2 separate regions of the Homo sapiens genome follow, and region 1 is linked to region 2. A link means that fine-mapping ties the variant in region 2 to the plasma level of a protein whose gene starts in the linked region. Region 2 holds a variant in brackets. A gene starts in the other region. All regions are shown on one strand. Distances are from middle to middle.

What was found. PIP is the chance, under the fine-mapping model, that this variant and not a neighbour inherited with it causes the effect. The UK Biobank Pharma Proteomics Project read protein levels with antibody pairs (Olink). The fine-mapping took linkage between variants from a reference panel, not from the people measured, so its PIPs are less certain.
Region 1: TINAGL1 starts here. The variant in region 2 is fine-mapped to the plasma level of the TINAGL1 protein (UK Biobank, PIP 0.99).

Annotation. Positions count from the first base shown.
Region 1 is chr1:31,570,160-31,579,499 of GRCh38, forward strand. It overlaps TINAGL1 (tubulointerstitial nephritis antigen like 1), which reads left to right and starts at 6,356. Exons shown (of 12, transcript NM_022164.3): 1 at 6,356-6,436; 2 at 6,975-7,299; 3 at 9,045-9,108. The coding sequence starts at 6,990. LOC105378626 (a long non-coding RNA gene) reads right to left here and starts at 7,738. Exons shown (of 6, transcript NR_188671.1): 1 at 7,685-7,738; 2 at 5,251-5,511; 3 at 1,876-2,144; 4 at 122-1,583. RefSeq lists an enhancer at 6,167-6,887.
Region 2 is chr1:2,210,117-2,219,516 of GRCh38, forward strand. It overlaps LOC124903823 (a long non-coding RNA gene), which reads left to right and starts at 2,275. Exons shown (of 2, transcript XR_007065358.1): 1 at 2,275-2,361. It also overlaps a transcript of FAAP20 not described here. RefSeq lists enhancers at 1-302, 1,625-2,463. The variant C/A (reference allele first, on the strand shown) is at 4,610.

The sequences.
Region 1 (9,340 bases), 29 Mb after region 2:
CAAGTGCCTTACATATATGAATTCATATCATCTTCACAACCACCTTGCAGGTAGGGACTGTTATTAGTGCCCTCATTTTACACATGGAGAAACTGAGACACGGAGCATTTAAGAAGCTTACCCCTGTTTCCCCGGTTGTTGAGTGGTGGAGCCAGGCCTGGAACCTGCTTTACCTGGCTACTGAGTGATAAACCTCCTTGAACCTGGCTCTTAACCACAATCAATACCACTCACTGTGGTGCGTGAACCACTTCAAGATGACTTGACGTTGCGTGAGCCGGTTTGGTCTGCTTTTGCCAGCATGAGCTGCTTGTGCTGGCGTTACCCGCACACAACCTTGATTTTGGTGATTCCAATCGACAGATGGAGCTCAGGCCTCGTGGATCCTCCTTGAACTGGAAGCCCACTGTATTTCTTTCCCAGGGCTGCTATGATGAACTGCTACAAACGTGGCTGCTTAACACAACAGAAGTTAATTTTCTCAGTTCTGGGGGCCAGAAGTCCAAAATCAAGGTGTCGGCCAGGCTATTCTCCCTCTGTATCCAGAGGATCAGGGAGAATCTGTTCCTTGCCTCCTCCAGCTTCTGGTGGCTCCAGGTGTTCCTCGAATTGTGGCCACAGAGCTCTGATCTCAGCCTCTGGGGCCACATTGCCTCTTCCTTTCCTGTCTGTGCCCTCTGGGGTCTCTCATAAGGACATTGTCAACAGATTTAGGGTCCACCCAGATAACCCAGGATGATCTCCTTATCTCAAAATCCTTAACTTAATTACATCCAAAAGGACTCTTTTTCCAAATAAGGTCACATTCACAAGTTCTGGGGATTAGAACATGGATATATCTTTTTTGAGACCTCCATTCAACTCATTACAACCAAAAGGCCACACCACAGTATTTGACCCTGAGAACCCAGCTCTTAAAACTGATTCTTCCTGTTGGATGAGTATTCGCCCAGCTATTGGGGTTTCATCACTGTCTGCTTGGGGATCAGAAAAGGAAGAGTGTCAAATGTGCTTGGAGCCATGGAAGAGCCTCTTGCACTTTTCAAGACCTATATATTAATATTCCTGGCTGGAAGGATCAAGATTTGCTGGAAATGTCAAGTGAGATGTAAAAATGTTTCTGTAAACAGGCACTCAAGGATAGCATTAGTTTTCTAAGATGTTTGTGGGTGATAACACCAAGCTCTTCTCCTGGGAGAGCATTCTTTAACGAATGTGCAGCTGAAGTGAAGGAGGGCAGGTAATTAAGAGATGAGGGGAAGCTGTTAACCCCCAAATATCACAAGGAAACAGCACTCAGGGGCCCTTTGTGCTCAACTGGCTCCAAACACCAACGATACAGAAATATGACAGAAAAGGGGAAGCTGTGTTTCTGTTTTCTGCATTTCTCCACTTCCATCCACAGTGAATGACCACAGACACTACCAGGTGTGAGAGTCAGCTTAGTCTTTGGACAGTTGTGGCCATTGCAGAGGCAGTGTGCTGGGGACCTCAGGGCTTGGGCACCAGGACGCTGCTCTGCTCCTAACAGCCGTGTGACCTTGGACAAGCCAGAGAGTCCTTCTGCATCTTGACTTGCTCATCTGTGAAATGGAGATAATAGGGCTACCTGTGAGTGTATTTGGTAGCATGCTATCTACCATACACGGCACGTACCCAGCCTCCATCTGACCTCTCTAAATCCACTTTTACCCTGCAATCATCTGTTCTCTCTAGAGCAGCCAGAGTGGGCCTTTGCACATGGAAATCAGATGATTTTGCCCTCATGTTTATATCCCCTCAGTGGTCAGAAGACAATTCAAGCCCCTTCCTCCAGCCTGTCCTGCATGATCCGGCCCCAGCCTTCTCCCAGCCCCTTCCTGCTCCTCTGTGCACCTCGCTTGCTGCACTCCGGATGCTCAGGGCTCTCTCCTGCTTCTCAAGCAGACCAACTTGTGCCAGGCCTCAGGGCTTTTGCTCATGCTGATCCGGCTTCCTGGGATGCCTCCCCTGGGCCCTGGGAATGGCTGCTTTCTTCTCATCCCTCAGGTGTCAGCTCAAACGTCATCTCCTCTCTGAGACCGCCTTGACCAGCACATTACACCAGGTTCTTACGCTATGTGCATATCTTCAGAACGCTTCACATTTTGGAATGACTTCTTGATCTGTGGGTGGGGGGGCGGGGGGATGGTTTGCTTATGTATTTGTCTATCTTCCCGTTGTTATTATTATTATTATTATCATCATCATTATTTGAGATGGAATCTCACTTTGTCACCCAGGCTGGAGTGCAGTGGCACAATCTCAGCTCACTGCCACCTCTGCCTCCTGGGCTCAAGCAATCCTCCCACCTCAGCCTCCTGAGTAGCTGGGGCCATAGGTACATGCCACCATACCCAGGCAATTTTTTTAATTTTTGGTAGAGACAGGGTTACACCATGTTGCCCAGGCTGATCTCAAACCCCTGAGCTGAAGCAATCCACCTGCCTTAGGCTCCCAAACTGCTGGGATTACAGGCATGAGCCGCCATGCCTGGCCTCTCTTCCCATTAGACTGCAAACTCCACAATAGCAGGAACTCCATCTGTTTGGTTCAACAATGTACACTCAGCACCTAGCACAGAACCTGGCACATCGTAAATGCTTAACAAGTATTTGTTGAATGAATGAGAAAATCAAATAGTAAAGCATGCCATTGCGTGGCGCAACACACTTCCACATGGCCTGGAATTTTGTCTGCTGCAAGCTCCAGCGTGCTATGACAGCACCACACTCTGACTGTCATGCAGCCCTTGATGTGGGACTTTCTACAAAACAGTCCATGAGCCCTGGGAAGCCCCAACATATCACAACATGGCCCAACCGGCTACAGTATTAGGCCTGGACAGGGTCTCAGATGCAGTCCCAGGGAGCACTGACCTGAGCTCTGGACATGTCCCACTGACCACAGGGAACCACAAGGAGCCCCAGCCTTGGATGGGGTGCTGTTTGGGCCCTGAGCATCTGAACTCCCAGGCCTCAAGTATCAGGTCCTCGGCTAGGGACCTGAGGTGAGCAGACAACAGGTCTTTGTCTTCCCAGAAAGCCCTGCTCAGCTCACAGAGGAGAATGGCTGATTCCGAGCATTTAGAGCAGTTGTGAAGTTTGTGGGGTGTGGGGAGCTCTGGGACTCCATAGAGAGGAGAGCCCTCTGCTCTGCCGTGTGTTCTTAGGCTTGTCACTGTCCCTTTCTGGCTTCACCTCCCTCTGTAAAAGTAAGAGAATACCAGAGGGCCTCCAGGGAGCATCTGGGTACAGGTTGGTACCAACGCCCAGAGAGGGGCTGCGCTGCCGGGGGTCCGGAGTAAGGGAGGACAAAACCACCACAGGGACCTAGGCTACCTGCCTCTTGAAAAGCCGGAAGGGCTCAGAGGGGGAAGTCTCGCTGGTGTCTCCTCCTCTGCTGCTCTGTCCCAGGCCCTTGGATAAGGCCCCACTTTGCTCAAGAATAAGTCATTGAGTCGGCCAGGCATGGTGGCTCATGCCTGTAATCCCAGCACTTTGGGAGGCTGAGGCGGGCGGATCACAAGGTCAGGAGATCGAGACCATCCTGGCTAACATGGTGAAACCTCATCTCTACTAAAAAAAAAATACAAAAAATTAGCTGGGCCTGGTTGTGGGTGCCTGTAGTCCCAGCTACTCAGGAGGCTGAGGCAGGAGAATGGCTTGAACCCAGGAGGCAGAGCTTGCAGTGAGCTGAGATCACGCCACTGCACTCCAGCCTGGGCGACAGAGCGAGACTCCATCAAAAAAAATAATAATAAGTCAATGAGTCACTAGGAGTCACTAGGAGGCAAAGGGTCAAAGGGTCATGGAAAAGGAAAGTGGGGGTGTCCAGCACCCCCGGCCCTGCCCTTTTCCTCCTCGGCCAAGGAACCCAGTGAGTCACAAAATTCCACTGGGGCGGGCTCTGTGCCAAGCTGAGTGATGGTGGGAGGCTCTGGCTCTGCTCCCATCCCCTGCTCTGAGTCCCTGCCTCTTATGCACAGACAGGCAGGCAGACAAGGACAGGCAGATGGCCACAACTCCCACACAGATACACAGACACCTCTTAGACAGGGAGGCACAGGCAGGACACACACACAGACATACAAGCCAACAAGTGCACAAATGCAGGCAAACAACACACGCTGGCAGACAGACAGATCCATAATGGACACAGAGACAACATCCAGACAGATACACACACACAGATGCACAGGTATGTAGCAGATGGACAGGTAAATGGATAGACAAGCAGACAATCAGTCAGACAAGGACAGGCAGATAGCCAAAATATCCAGACTCACAGATACACAGGCACATAGCAGATAGACAGGTAAACACACTTCGGAAGGCCAAGGCAGGCGGATTGCTTGAGCTCAGGAGTTGGAGACCAGCCTGGGCAACATGGTGAAACCCCATCTCTACTACAAATACAAAAAAAATTCAGGCAGGCATGGCGGTGTGCACCTGTAGTCCCAGTTACTCAGGAAGCTGAGGTGGGAGGATTACTTGAGCCCAGGAGGTCAAGGCTTCAGTGAGTCGAGATCGCGCCACTGTACTCCAGCCTGGGTGACAAAGTGAGACCTTGTCTCAAAAAAAAACAAAAAACAAAAAGCAAAAAAAACCCAGACGATCAGATGTGGACTGACAGACTCAAGCAGAAGCAGAAACACCCCCACAAACACCGCAACTCAGATATACACATGCATACATGCACACAGAGATAACACACCCAGACTCACGAGGGTAGCCTATGCGGTGTGATTTTGGGCAAAAGAGAGGCCAGATGTCTCTAAACAAGCCCCCAGCCCCAGAACCATGAAAAAGTAGGTACCATAAAAGTAGGAACTCTGGACACGAACTCTTTTGAAAGAAAGCAGCTTTCATCTCTTACCCTGAGGATATGACATTTACCAATACCGAGGGGCCCGTCCTGCAGTAAGATGAATGGAGTTTAGATAAGAAAAGAGACTTCCCAACCAGGAGCACGTTGAGACCTGTAGTGGGTGACTAAGGGTGACTAGGGGTAAAGGAGTGGGCTGGTGGCAGGCAGGGAGCCTGTGTTCTGGCTGCACGACCTCAGGCAAGTGCATTCTTCTGAGCCTCAGTTTCCCACCTAGGCTTTGTCCTCCCAGGTCCCTGCAGGGAGCAGATGGGCAGCTCCTGGGTGTGTTAGTGCCAGTGCTGGGGCCCCCGGATATTATCCCTCCACCCCCACCACCAGGGCAGGACCCCCTTGGTGACTCACCACCCAGTGGTCCATGGCAGGGGTAACCCAGCCACAGGTGCCGGTGATCCTCGGCTCTCTCCCTTCCCCCAGGGTCTGGCCAGCTGAGGATGCCCCTTGGTTTGGGGGAGGTTTGCAGGGAGGTCAGTGGGAGGGCAAAGGGAGTCCCTGATGCCTTCCCCGGGGCCACATGTGAGGCTCAGGCCTGGGCCTGGGAGGGTTTGTCCAGGTGTAGTCTCTTTTATCCTCTTTGCTGGTAGAGACCTCTGGCCTGGGCCCAACCTGTTGAAGAGAGGGCGTTGCACAATAGGGAGGTAAAAGGTGACGGCAGACCTGGCGGGACAGAAGCCCCATTGTTTGGGTCCCAGGCCAGCCTGGGCAAAGAAAGGTTTATGCCTGCGGCAGGAAGGAGGGCCTCTGCAGGGGGTGCCAGCTGGTAGGGCCCTTGCCTTTGGACCCTTGGAGGGGGACAGGTGCCAAGCAGGATGCCCTTGGGTTTGCTAGAGAGGGCAGTGCTCGTCTAGGGGCCCAAGCAGGCAAGGGAAGGCAGACTCAACAAGGGATCAAAGGGTGCAGAGGCCACCCCCACACCCTGCCCACCTCCCAGGGATGAGCCGCCCAGGGCACCTAAGGATCATACTCCTGGAATTCCAATCATTCCTAGGAGCTGGGGTGGCTAGGGGGGCGGCACCCAAGCCTAGGGGGCACAGTGGAGAGGGGTGTGCATGGCTATTTTTATTACCGAGGGGTCAGGAGAGGCTTACAGAATTTTGCCTCACATGCCCTCCCCATCATTTCCCAAACTTGTGTCCATAACCCAGAGCTCGGCTGCCCATATCCCCCCTTCTCCACCAGAGCCCCTCAGCTCCACAGGGATGCCCACTGTGAAGTCCTTCCCAGTGTGAAACCGCAATCCTTCCTGCTTGGGGTTCCCCTAAGGGAACGGCTTCCGCCACAGGAGACCCAGCCAGGACAATCGTGTGCTTGTCGTTTCTCCACCCTGCAAGCCCATGAGTTGTGGGGTAGTTACTCCAGGTACAAGCCAGGCGCCCCTCCCTTCCGCCACTGCTGGGGCGGTGCAGAGGGCGGGCGGTACAAAAAGCGCCCCGCCCCGCGCTCCTCTCTTGACTTTGAGCGTCCGGCGGTCGCAGAGCCAGGAGGCGGAGGCGCGCGGGCCAGCCTGGGCCCCAGCCCACACCTTCACCAGGTAGGGACGCTCCCCTGCTCAGAGGGCGGAAGGTGTAGACAGAGAAGAAACAGGGGGAGGGGGCAGGTAGAGGAACCAAGACAGATGGCAGAGAGAGGGACAGTGGAGGGGGACAGAGGGACACAGGAACAGAAGAGAGGTGTACCCAAAAGACCGGGGGAGACAGGAAAGCACAAAGTCAAGGACCCAGGTCAGGGATGGAGGCTGCTGGAGGGCAGAGAGACCTAGGACAGGAGAGAAGACCTTGGGTCCACAGGATGAGTGTTGGGTGGGAGCACCAAGAATGCCACCACCCTCATTTCCTTGTCCTTGAAGGTCCCTGCCTAGGTCAGGGAGGGGCTCCGTTTCTGCCCAGTCCCCATCCCCCTATAGCCAGGGCCCACACACTGGGGCTCCTCTGCCCGTGTCCTGCCTGGGGACTCAGGAATCGGGATCTCCCTCCCTGCTGGGCCCTCTTGAACTCACAGCTCCAGGAAACTGGGAGACTCATCCCTGGTGTTCCAGGGAGTCTCTGCTGCCCACCATCTCTGCCCCCCAGGGCCCAGGAGCCACCATGTGGCGATGTCCACTGGGGCTACTGCTGTTGCTGCCGCTGGCTGGCCACTTGGCTCTGGGTGCCCAGCAGGGTCGTGGGCGCCGGGAGCTAGCACCGGGTCTGCACCTGCGGGGCATCCGGGACGCGGGAGGCCGGTACTGCCAGGAGCAGGACCTGTGCTGCCGCGGCCGTGCCGACGACTGTGCCCTGCCCTACCTGGGCGCCATCTGTTACTGTGACCTCTTCTGCAACCGCACGGTCTCCGACTGCTGCCCTGACTTCTGGGACTTCTGCCTCGGCGTGCCACCCCCTTTTCCCCCGATCCAAGGTGGGCACTAAGATGGCCAGGAGGGTGGGTCACTTTGTCCACCTCAGACTCAGCAAGGCTCAAGAGCAAAGCTGATGGATGCACTGACATTTCCAGGGGAAGCTCTGTAGAATCTGGGACTCTTCCCTGCCCCTCTGGGAACTTTACTCTCCAGCAAGACTGAAGAAGCTCCTTGGTTAGAATTCTAATTTGGCCCAGGGAAAGGGCAACCTCCCACATTTTCTCCCAATCCTGTCTCTTTTCCAGACACGGAAGGTGCTGGCCGCACCTGCTGACTCACTCTTGGGCTGATAAGGCACATATGGGTTGGTGAGGGTCATCTTAGCCATTTTTCTGCCTTTGCTGAGGATTCTAGGATCCTGTGCCCCGAGATGGCTGCTCATACCTGGGAGATGGGTCAAATCTTTTCCTGCTTTCAGCCTCACCATCATCCTTTTCCATGCACTTGCCCCTGTCCAATAGGAGAATCACTTGCGTTCCTTCCCACAGTTCCATGGGGCTTGGGCCGGCAGACTGCATACCTGAGCTGTCATCTCAAGAGTGCTGTGTTATCTTAGGACGGTTGCTTACCTTCTCTGGGCCTTGGCTTCCCCATGCTCCTCCCACTCCCCATCTCCAAGCCCTAACTTATTTAAATGGAAAAGGATCCCAGGAATGTTGTGGCTGGCATCCAAGTAAAGTAAGAGGAATCCAGGTTGGAATCATTGAAGAACTTCCCAAACAGCAGTTGGTGTGTGACCCTGCAGGATTTGTCTTCAGTTATAGTTTAATTTCAGTGAGAGCTGGTGTGTGTGTGTGTGTGTGTGTGTGTGTGTGTGATGTCTTCAGTTATAGCTTAATTTCAGTGAGAGCTGGTGTGTGTGTGTGTGTGTGTGATATCTTCAGTTATAGTTTGGCTTCAATTTCAGTGAGAGCTGGTATGTGTGTGTGTGTGTGTGTGATGCCTTCAGTTATAGTTTAATTTTAGTGACAGCTGGTGTGTGTGTGTGTGTGTGTGTGTGATGTCTTCAGTTATAGTTTAATTTCAGTGAGAGCTGGTATGTGTGTGTGTGTGTGTGATGTCTTCAGTTATAGCTTAATTTCAGTGAGAGCTGGTGTGTGTGTGTGTGTGTGTTGTCTTCAGTATAGCTTAATTTCAGTGAGAGCTGGTGTGTGTGTGTGTGATGTCTTCAGTTATAGTTTAATTTCAGTGAGAGCTGGTGTGTGTGTGTGTGTGTGTGTGTGTGATGTCTTCAGTTATAGCTTAATCTCAGTGAGAGCTGGTGTGTGTGTGTGTGTGTGATGTCTTCAGTTATAGTTTAATTTCAGTGAGAGCTGGTGTGTGTGTGTGTGATGTCTTCAGTTATAGTTTAATTTCAGTGAGAGCTGGTGTGTGTGTGTGTGATGTCTTCAGTTATAGCTTAATCTCAGTGAGAGCTGGTGTGTGTGTGTGTGTGTGTGATATCTTCAGTTATAGTTTGGCTTCAATTTCAGTGAGAGCTGGTATGTGTGTGTGTGTGTGTGTGATGCCTTCAGTTATAGTTTAATTTTAGTGACAGCTGGTGTGTGTGTGTGTGTGTGTGTGTGATGTCTTCAGTTATAGTTTAATTTCAGTGAGAGCTGGTATGTGTGTGTGTGTGTGAGACAGAGAGAGAGAAAGAGAGAGAATCTTGGAAAGGTTCAAGGTACCTGACCTCCAAGGACCTGGCCAATTAGCCCATCCTCTCTGGTTCTGGTTCCACTTCTCTTCTCTTCCCTTCCAACAGGATGTATGCATGGAGGTCGTATCTATCCAGTCTTGGGAACGTACTGGGACAACTGTAACCGTTGGTGAGTGTTTGGAGCTTAGAGGGGTCTTGCTTTGTGAGCCTGTGGCTGACAGACTTGGTTCAAATCTTATCCCTGACCCCTTTTGCAAGGGAGAAGTCTTTTCCCTTCTTTGAACCTCAGTTTCCTCATCTGCAATAGAGGAATTTTAACACTGACCAAGTCAACTTATCTAACATCATTCCAACAACATTCCTCAAGCATGGCCAGCCATGGGTGCCTGGCCCAGGGGTCA
Region 2 (9,400 bases):
GTCTTTGGGGGCTCTGGAGATGGGCGGCTCACCTGCCTGCCTCGTGCCCAGACCTGCGAGTGTGCCTGCCCGTGTCAGACAGAGGCGAGTTGGGACTTCACACCTGAAATCAAGCGGGAGGGTAGGAATGTGAGCCTCGAAACCACCTTCTTTCTGTATCGTTTCTGGGAGTGGCGATGTCGGCCAGTGGGACACCTGCTGAGGGTCCTCTTTTCCCATCCGGGTGCTGGCGGGACAGGGGGTGGCTGTGACCTTCACCCAGCCTGTGCTGAGAGCTCCAGCCCCCCACGGCGCCCACAGCCCTGCCTGCCGCCTCCCCCACCCCAGACCCTGCCCTCCTACCCTCCACGCCTGCTTTGGGGAGGAGGCCAGGTGGGGGTGGGGCTGATCTAGTCACAGGCTCTGCTTCGGCAATGAGACCCCAGCAACCCCCCAGGTAAGGGGGCCTTGGGGGCTGGGTGGGGGTGGCTCCTCGGGGCTCCTCCTGCCCTCCGGGGGCTGTGAAGCTTTCTGGGCAGCACTAGTCCCTTTTGCAAGACACTGCCAAGACTTGTGGCATTTCTGTGGGTCTCTGCATGCACAGCAGAGCACACACATGCACCAGGGCTGGGGCTCTTCTCCTGGAGGGTGACCCTGGGAATGGGTAGCCTTGCCCACCCAACCTTGGTCACCAGTGGCCATCCAGCCCCAGGTGTCCCCATCCTCAATTTGGGCTGAGGGCAGACTGCAGGCTGGCGTTGCAGAGGCAGCTGGGTAAAGTGTGGTCCCAGACAGGGACGCAAGCTGGCGATTGCTGCGGGGGACCTGGGCCTGGGCTTAGCGACTGCTGCCCCTATCCAGATGCCTGATTGGGACCAGGGTGTGGGGCCGGGCCCTGCAGCGCCTGTCTTGCCCGGGCTGGAGCCCTAGAGCTGTGCGACCTGGGGCCAGGGTGTTCTGACAGACTCACTCTCAGGGGCTGGATGCCCTTGGGCACCACGGCGGGTGCCTAGCAGACCGTGCTGTACACCATACCCCTACTCTGGCCATCTGTGGGCTCCTTGGGCCCCTGCCGCCATGCCACTGCCTCTCTTGGGAGCAAGTTTCTTTTCTTTTCTTTTTCTTTCTTTCTTTTTTTTTTTTTTTTTTTTGAGACGGAGTTTCGCTCTTGTTGCCCTGGTTGGAGTGCAGTCGCGCGATCTCGGCTCACTGCAACCTCCGCCGCTCAGGTTCAAGTGATTCTCCTGCCTCAGCCTCCCAAGTAGCTGGGATTACAGGTACCTGCCACCACGCCTGGCTAATTTTATATATATATATATATATATATATATATATATATATTTTTTTTTTTTTTTTTTTTTTTTTTTTTGAGACAGAGTCTTGCTCTGTTGCCTAGGCTGAAGTGCAGTGGCGCAATCTGGGCTCACTACAAGTTCCGCCTCCCAGGTTCACGCCATTCTCCTGCCTCAGCCTCCCCAGTAGCTTGGGACTACAGGCACCCGCCACCACGCCCGGCTAATTTTTGTTATATTTTTAGTAGTGACGGGGTTTCACTGTGTTAGCCAGGATGGTCTCCATCTCCTGGCCTTGTGATCCGCCTGCCTCGGCCTCCCAAAGTGCTGGGATTACAGGCATGAGCCACCGTGCCCGGCCAGTTTTTTATATTTTTATTAGAGACGGGGTTTCATCATGTTGGCCAGGCTGGTCTCAAACTCCTGACCTCAGGTGATCCACCTGCCTCGGCCTCCCAAAGTGCAGGGATTACAGGCGTGAGCCACCGTGCCTGGCCGAGAGCAAGCTGCTGCTTTTTTTTTTTTTTTTTTTTGAGACGGAGTCTTGCTTTGTCGCCCAGGCTGGAGTGCAGTAGTGTGATCTCGGCTCACTGCAAGCTCCACCTCCCAGGTTCACACCATTCTCCTGCCTCAGCCTCCCGAGTAGCTGGGACTACAGGCGCCCGCCACCACGCCCAGCTAATTTGTTTTTTTGTATTTTTAGGAGCGACAGGGTTTCACCGTGTTAGCCAGGTTGGTCTCGATCTCCTGACCTCGTGATCCGCCCGCCTCAGCCTCCCAAAGTGCTGGGATTACAGGCGTGAGCCACTGCGCCAAGAGCAAGCTTCTGATGTAGGGGCTGCGGGGGGCTTCCCAGGCCAGGCAGGTTGCTGTCTCAGCGCCAGCGTGTAGCCTCCTCCCAGGATCCGGAGCAGGAGGGTGGCTGTCTTTTGCGTTCAATCCGCTGGGCTGCTGTGGGGTTCCCGCAGAGCTGCTCCAAGGGGCCGAGAGAAGGAAGGACGCTGCCCCCAAGGACAGACGGGCAAGCTGGAGTCAGGAGAGGCGCAGCCGTGGCCCACAGGCCTTGGATCTCTGGTTGGGGGAGCACCAGGTGGGTATGGGAGGGGGCCAGGGAAGCCCTGCAGCCCCCCCACCCCCACCCCCGGCCCCAGGCAGCAGTACCTCCAAGGCCTGGGCGGCAGGAAAGGGAGAGATGACGTCATTGCCGCCTGGAATCTGCTGTTTGGAGGCGTCGCCATGGAGACCGGAAGGCTCAGGGTGGGTAAAAATAGCAAACCCAAAAGGGTGTAAGTTCCAAGAACGCGAGTCTCTGAAAAGCGAGGCATCCATGTTCTCGTTGCCTGGAGGACAGAGGGCCCAGGCTGGGAGTCTAGCGGGAGGGGCCGCTCGGGGCTGCTGGCTTGCAGCCACCCACACGCGGTGTGTCCCTGCCACAGCCACGGAGAGCTTTGTCCCCGCGCAGGGTGTGGCGGGCGTGGCAGGCTCCCAGCAGGAGGCGTCTGCAAGCACGCTCCCTTCCTTTGCTTGGGCACCGGAGCCTTAGCCGAGGCCGCGCTGCAGGGACTTTTCCTTCCTCGGAGAGGGGAAGCGGCCGTGGCCTGTGAGTCGCTGGGCTTCCCAGGCCTCATCCAGGCCGGAACTCCGTGCCTCCAGGCGGCCTCTGCTGGGGCGGGAGGTACCAGAGCTGGGGTTTTCGCTGCCTGGCCTGAATGCTCTTTTCCTGCCCCAGTTTTGGAGAAGGAAAGGGGCGGTTGCCTGAGAAAGCGTCCTGCACCCCAGTCCTATTCCTCTAGGGGTGGTTTTCTTGCCAGGAAGCAGGATTTTCCTCCAGGCCAGGAGGTGGCCGTCCTGCTCCTTCTGGGCTTGGTCCCCGGAAACGCCAGTACACACTGTCTGCACCTCCCTTTGGCTGCGTCCCAGTGTCCTCAATGGGTCCCCCCAAGTCCCAGGCCACAGAATACAGCAGGAGGCTCGAGGGCTCTGGGCTGCTCTCCCCAGATGGCCGAGTCCGTGGAGAAACCCTGTAGCCGCGAGGGGCTCCCTGGCCGGGTGCCACCTCTGAGAAACTCTGCCCTGTTTTGGCTCTCGGTGTCGCTGGGGGCTCCTCTCTCCCAGGCCAGGCTGCACCGGGGCACGGAGGGGACCTCGCCTGGCTGCTTCCTCCCGCAGCGCGAGCCTAGGCAGAAGTGTCATTGGGCTCAGGAACCCTCAGATGGCCCAAGAATGACCCAGGAACCCTGAGAAGGCCCAAGAGTGACCCAGGAGCCCTCAGATGGCCCAAGAGCACCCCGAGTGGGGAGGGATCCAGGGTGATTCCCAGCCCCGAGAAAGGAAGCCCCATTCCGGGAGGGTGACTGTCCCCGAGCGGGGGGATGACTGTCCCCGAGCAGGGGGGTGACTGTGCCCGAGCGGGGGGGTGACTGTCCCCGAGCGGGGGGGTGACTGTCCCCGAGCAGGGGGGTGACTGTCCCCGGTTGGAAGGTGACTGCCCACTACAGCAACAAACGTTCTCCTGAGCAGCCTGGGGAACGCTTTCCTCCCTCCGTGCCGGAGGCTGGTGGGGCTGAGTCTCCGCCGCTCCCTGGGTGCTAAATCCTGGAACATCTTCAAAGAGTTTCAGTCCCTTCTCTTCTGCACACACCATTGTTCTCAGGGTGGCAGGGCACCCCCTTCCTCCACCCAGGGCAGGGGGAGCACGGGGTCTCACCTCTCACGCCCAGACCTCCCTTGGCTTGTGGTGGCCTTGACTGGAGAGGGCGAGGGGACATAGAGCCCTGTGTAGGGGTTTCTCATTCCCCCAAGACATAGCTCGCATGCCTTATGTAACGCGTGAGCTCACGCAGAGGGCCTGCCAGAAATGACGGCAGGGGCGGGAGGGGCCTGCTCGGGAAGCCAAGTGTGGCTCAGGCTTACGAGGAGCCTGGGCCCTGCCTTGAGGAGAGAGGGGCCCCGGGCCTTTGCAACCTGGGGCTCCCACACTGGCAGGGGATGGGCAGGGCCTGGGAGGGAGCGAAGGCCGTGGTGGTGCAGTGTATGGCAAGGCCTGGGGTGGCTGTGCTGGTCACTTGGCCTGTGGGTGCCTGGCCAAGCAGGATGTGGGGTCAGGCCCACCCCACTCCCCCACTAGCAGGCACCAGCAGGCCCGAGATGTCAGAGGAAGGGGCCTAAGTCACCCAAGACCCCCGGGAGAAGCTCTGGGGGCCTTAGAGGGGTGGATGGGTGGAGGCAGTGCCATCTCCCCCAGTGCCAGCTGCCCTTCCACCCTGAGAAACAGACCAGGACGGATGCTGCGCTGAGGATGGCCCTGAGGCAGGGCTGGACCCAGTGCCCGCGGCCGC[C/A]CTTGCCCTTCCTCCCTTCCCTTTCGGAGTCCTGGCCCCACCCTGTGCTTCCCCTCCGCCTGCTGCACAGGCGCCCACACTGTGTGGCTGGCCCAGCCCAGTTTCATTCCTGGAATGGGACCCCGGGAGCCGAGAGGGGCAAGGGCCTCTGGGCGGCGCGTGGGGCCTGGGTGACAGCACGGGTCCTCAGGGCAGTGCCCCCAGCCAAGAGGGAGCCATCCCTCCAAACACAGTGCCAAGGGGCACCTGGCCTGGGGACCTGTGTCCCGCCAGCAGTAGGGCCTAGCACAGCTGCACCTCACCAGGCCCAGGCCAGCCATTGGTCAGCTCACGGCCTGTTGCTGGGAAGGCAGCCAGCCCCTGACAAGGAGGGGGTGACCGGGAGTCCCACTAGGAGGAGGGGGAGGCCAGCCCTCGGGCCTGAGGAGGGCAGAACACTGGCAGGGGTCCCTGGCAGCGTCTTGGACTTTGCCCTCAAACCCTTAAGCAGGAGAACGGGGTGGGTGGGGGTTCCCTGAGGGGGCCAAGGGTGGTGCCGGGAGCCCAGTGTGGGGCAGATCCTGCTCTCAGGAAGGGTGGCTGAGGGGCCATGGCCCTAGACAGCGGGAGGGGCTGTATCCTGCTGCTGATGGGGAGGGGTGAGGATGGGGGCAAGGGGCGTCCATGCAGAGGCGGAGAGCAGGAGGTGAGGGGTTGGGCCCCTGGGATGGCTTGGTCTGAGCCTGGAGGCTGCACCCCCTCTGAGTAGCGGGAAGGTGGCTGCGGGCAGGTGCCGTGGGTGACTGAAGGGTAGGACCTGCGTGAAGGAGCCCCCGCTGCCCTTGGGACCACTGGGCCCCCGAGGTCTGGCCCTCACACACACCCTGCCCTCACCTGACCTCCCGCCCCGACCAGCCGCTTGCCCCAGTAGGTCCCAGGCTGCCCTGAGCCTCAGCATGCTCTGGTCTGCACGTGGCGGTAATGCCACCTGGCTCAGCATGTTGAGGGAAACCAGTCCTGGCACCAGGGTCCCACAGTGCCTGTGATGACTTATGAGGTTCTGCCATTGCAACCAACAGTGCCACAGCTTGGGCCCCTGGAAAGCACTGCGGGGATGGTCCCCCACTTCGAGAAGTGCTGGCTGAAAGCTTTGTGTGGGCAAGGACAGCACCCTTCTGCCCCCATTGGGTCCCCTGTGCCCACCTCGTGGTGCTCAGTGTTGTGTGCCGGGTAAAGGACAGCAGCCAGGGCCTCGGAGGATGCTGGTGATGCCCAGGCCGCGGCTGGGTCCCTGGCTCTCGCTCTGTCCCCACTGTTTGACACACAACCGCTTCAGCTAAGTCAAGAGTGATCTCTGGCCTGGGGGTCCCGGGCTCAGTGAAGTGCCGAGGGCACGCAGGGAGGTGGCGGCGAATGACTGGGGTGGCGTGGCGTGGCGTGGTGTGGCTGCAGCCCCGGGCAGCTATGACCAGCACAGCGCACAATCCAGGGCTGCACAGGATGCCCCCAGGACAGGGTTCAGTGGGTGAGGGTGGCAGGGCTGGGTGCCCACACTGGCTCTTCAATTCAGCACACGGCCCCCCAGGCTGGGCCTCACCAGTGTCCCCCTGGCTGTCCACAGGCTGTGGATGCGTCCTCAGAGCCAGGCCACGGGCTGCTGAGGGTGTCGAGGCCTCTGTGCCCCTCCCTCCCTCGGGCCCAACATCCTGCTGCTGCGCCCTCAGCCTCCAAGGTCCTTGTGTCTCTGGGCATGGGCTGCCAGGGGTCTCCTGCAGGAAAGGGAGCCCGAGAGAGCCAGCTTTGTCTCCCTAGCCTGGGACCTGGGCCAGGCCCTGTCACACTCTGGGTGTGAGCCCAAGGTGGGGTTGGGTGGACACCTGGCTCCCGGGATGGTTCAATGCCTGGCCCAGGCTGTCCAAGGCTGGGCAGCCTCATTGCTGCCCTACCTGGCTTTGTCCCTGTGGGGAGTGGGCAGGAGCTGGGCTGTGGCTCTGAGTGGGGTGGTCTGCTGGCCACCTGCTCTCACCCTCTGGTTCCCAATGGCCACAATGGCAGGACCATCCATGGCCCCCCAGAGGCAGGTGCCCTGCTCAGCACTTCCCATGCATCACCTCAGGTGATCTCAAGAGGCAGGCCCTGGCTCTGGGACCACCACCGGGAGGCTGACACACACCCGAGGCCACCTGGGCACGGTACAGGTCAGGCAACTGATTTCACAGAAGATCCCATGGTGGGCGAGGGCTCTCCTGGGCAGAATGGCTCTGAGAGAAACAACAGGAAACGCAAGCAAAACTGAAGGCAGCTTCCTTAGAAAGCCAGAAAATGGGCCGGGTGCAGTGACTAACGCCTGTAATCTCAGCACTTTGGGAGGCCAAGGCATGCGGATCACGAGATCAGGAGATCGAGACCATCCTGGCTAACACAGTGAAACCCCATCTCTACTAAACATACAAAAAATTAGCCAGGTGTGGTGGTGGGCACCTGTAGTCCCAGCTACTCAGGAGGCTGAGGCAGGAGAATAGCTTGAACCCGGGGGGCCGAGGTTGCAGTGAGCCAAGATTGCAGCACTGCACTCCAGCCTGGGCAACAGAGCAAGACTCTGTCTCAAAAAAAAAAAAAAAAAAAAAAGAAAGCCAGAAACTGCCGACCAGGCATGGTGGCTCATGCCTGTGATCCCAGCACTTTGAGAGGCCGAGGCGGGCAGATCACCTGAGGACAGGAGTTCAAGACCAGCCTGGCCAACATGGTGAAACCCCGTCTCTGCTAAAAATACAATAATTAGTTGGGCATGGTGGCATGTGCCTGTAATCCCAGCTATTACGGAGGCTTAGGCACGAGAATTGCTTGAACCCTGGAGGCGGAGGTTGCAGTGAGCCAAAATCGCACCACTGCACTCCAGCCTAGGCGATGGAGAGAGATTCCGTCTCAAAAAAAAAAAAAAAGAGCTGGGTGCGGTGGCTCACGCCTGTAATCCCAGCACTTTGGAAGGCCGAGCTGGGCAGATCATGAGGTCAGGAGATCAAGACCATCCTGGCTAACATGGTGAAACCCCATCTCTACTAAAAATATACAAAATTAGCCGGGCATGGTGGCGGGCGCCTGTAGTCCCAGCTACTCAGAAGGCTGAGGCAGGAGAATTGTGTGAACCCGGGAGGCGGAGATTGTAGTGAGCCGAGGTAGTGACACTGCACTGCAGCCTGGGCGATAGAGAGAGATTCCGTCTTTAAAAAAAAAAACAAAAAAAAAACAAAGAAAACTAGAAATTGCAGGTCAGCGCAAAAGAGAAACTTTAAGACATCTGTAGATTCTTCACTTGGCAAAAGTCACTTTCTTGTTTTTTGATATATGATCTGAAGGCTATAACATTCTACGTACCATGTAAGCTACATCCAGGAATTTTCATTGACAGTGTTTTCATTATCATTCAATTTAAAACATTTTGTGGTTTCCATTTTGATCCCTTCTTTAATTGATGATGTGTCCAAAGTATTTTGCAATGTCCCAGATAATGGTGATTTTTGATGGGAATGTGTATTTTTCTTTGTTATTTATTTTTATTTATTTTTTTGAGATGGAGTCTCGCTGTCACCCAGGCTGAAGTGCAGTGGCGCGATCTCAGCTCACTGCAACCTCTGCTTCCTGGGTACAAGTGATTCTCCTGCCTCAGCCTCCTGAGTAGCTGGGACTGTAGGCACATGCCACCATACCTGGCTAATTTTTGTATTTTTAGTAGAGACAGGGTTTCACCAGGCTGGTCTCAAACTCCTGCCCTCAGGTGATCCGCCCACCTCAGCCTACCAAAGTGCTGGGATTACAGGTGTGAGCCACTGCCCTCAGCCTGTTATTTTTAGTTTGGAATTCTAGTGTGTTTCTTTATTTTAATAGTTACCAAAGAAATACAGATACATAGATAAAAGAAACAAAAAGAACCCCCAAAGTTAGTACAGTTTAAATACTGAAACTGTAGAATCTGTAGAAACTATTGTCTCTGTGGAACTCACCAAGCCCTGGCCCTCCTTTGCTCCTCCATTACGGCCCTAGCGTCAGCTTCTTTCAAAGCTTTCACCCATTTTTTTTTGTCTTAGCTCTCTCCATACTTCTCAATTATGTGCTCTTGCTGCTCCTCCTTGGTTTAGCAGCTTTATACATGGTGAGATGTTACTGGAGAATGAGGGTTTTGCTCTTATCCAATGCTCCCTGCCCCACCCTACCATCTCTTCTTCTGTCTTCCCAAATGAGCAATTTCCTCATTTTTGTTTAAGTTGATGTCTCTATTATAATTTGTACTATAACTCTCTGCTGAGTCAAGTAGTGAACTCTGCTTAGGTTTTCTCTTTATTTTTCCTGGAGTTAGTAGTGGCCTTGCTTTCTTCTGTCATCTGCTGAGTTTCCTCTGTGCCTATGGCCCATCCCACCTACCTCTTCCAACAAGCCCTCCACACAGTGTTTGATCTAGTCAGTTGCATCCTACCTTCCACTGGTTCCTTGTTTTCCTGGAGCCCTGTGTCCTTCTGGCTTAGTCTGGGCTGCTTACTCTCTGGGCTCCATGTCTAGGCTGGTGGGCAGAGATTTCCATTTCCCCTTCATGGACTGGGACAGACCCTTCTTAGCTCTTATTGTTATGATGGAAGCCCAGTTCCAGATCCCATTCAGAAAGGGCCTGTGGCCATGACTCTTGTCTCTCACTGGCCTTAACCAGCAGCCCTCAGTGGACGTGAGACCAGGCCCAAGGCTTGCATTGGCAGTTTGGTTTCCACTCTTGCTTACCACTGTGGCTTGAGTGCTATCTTCATTTCTAGCTCTGCACAGCTA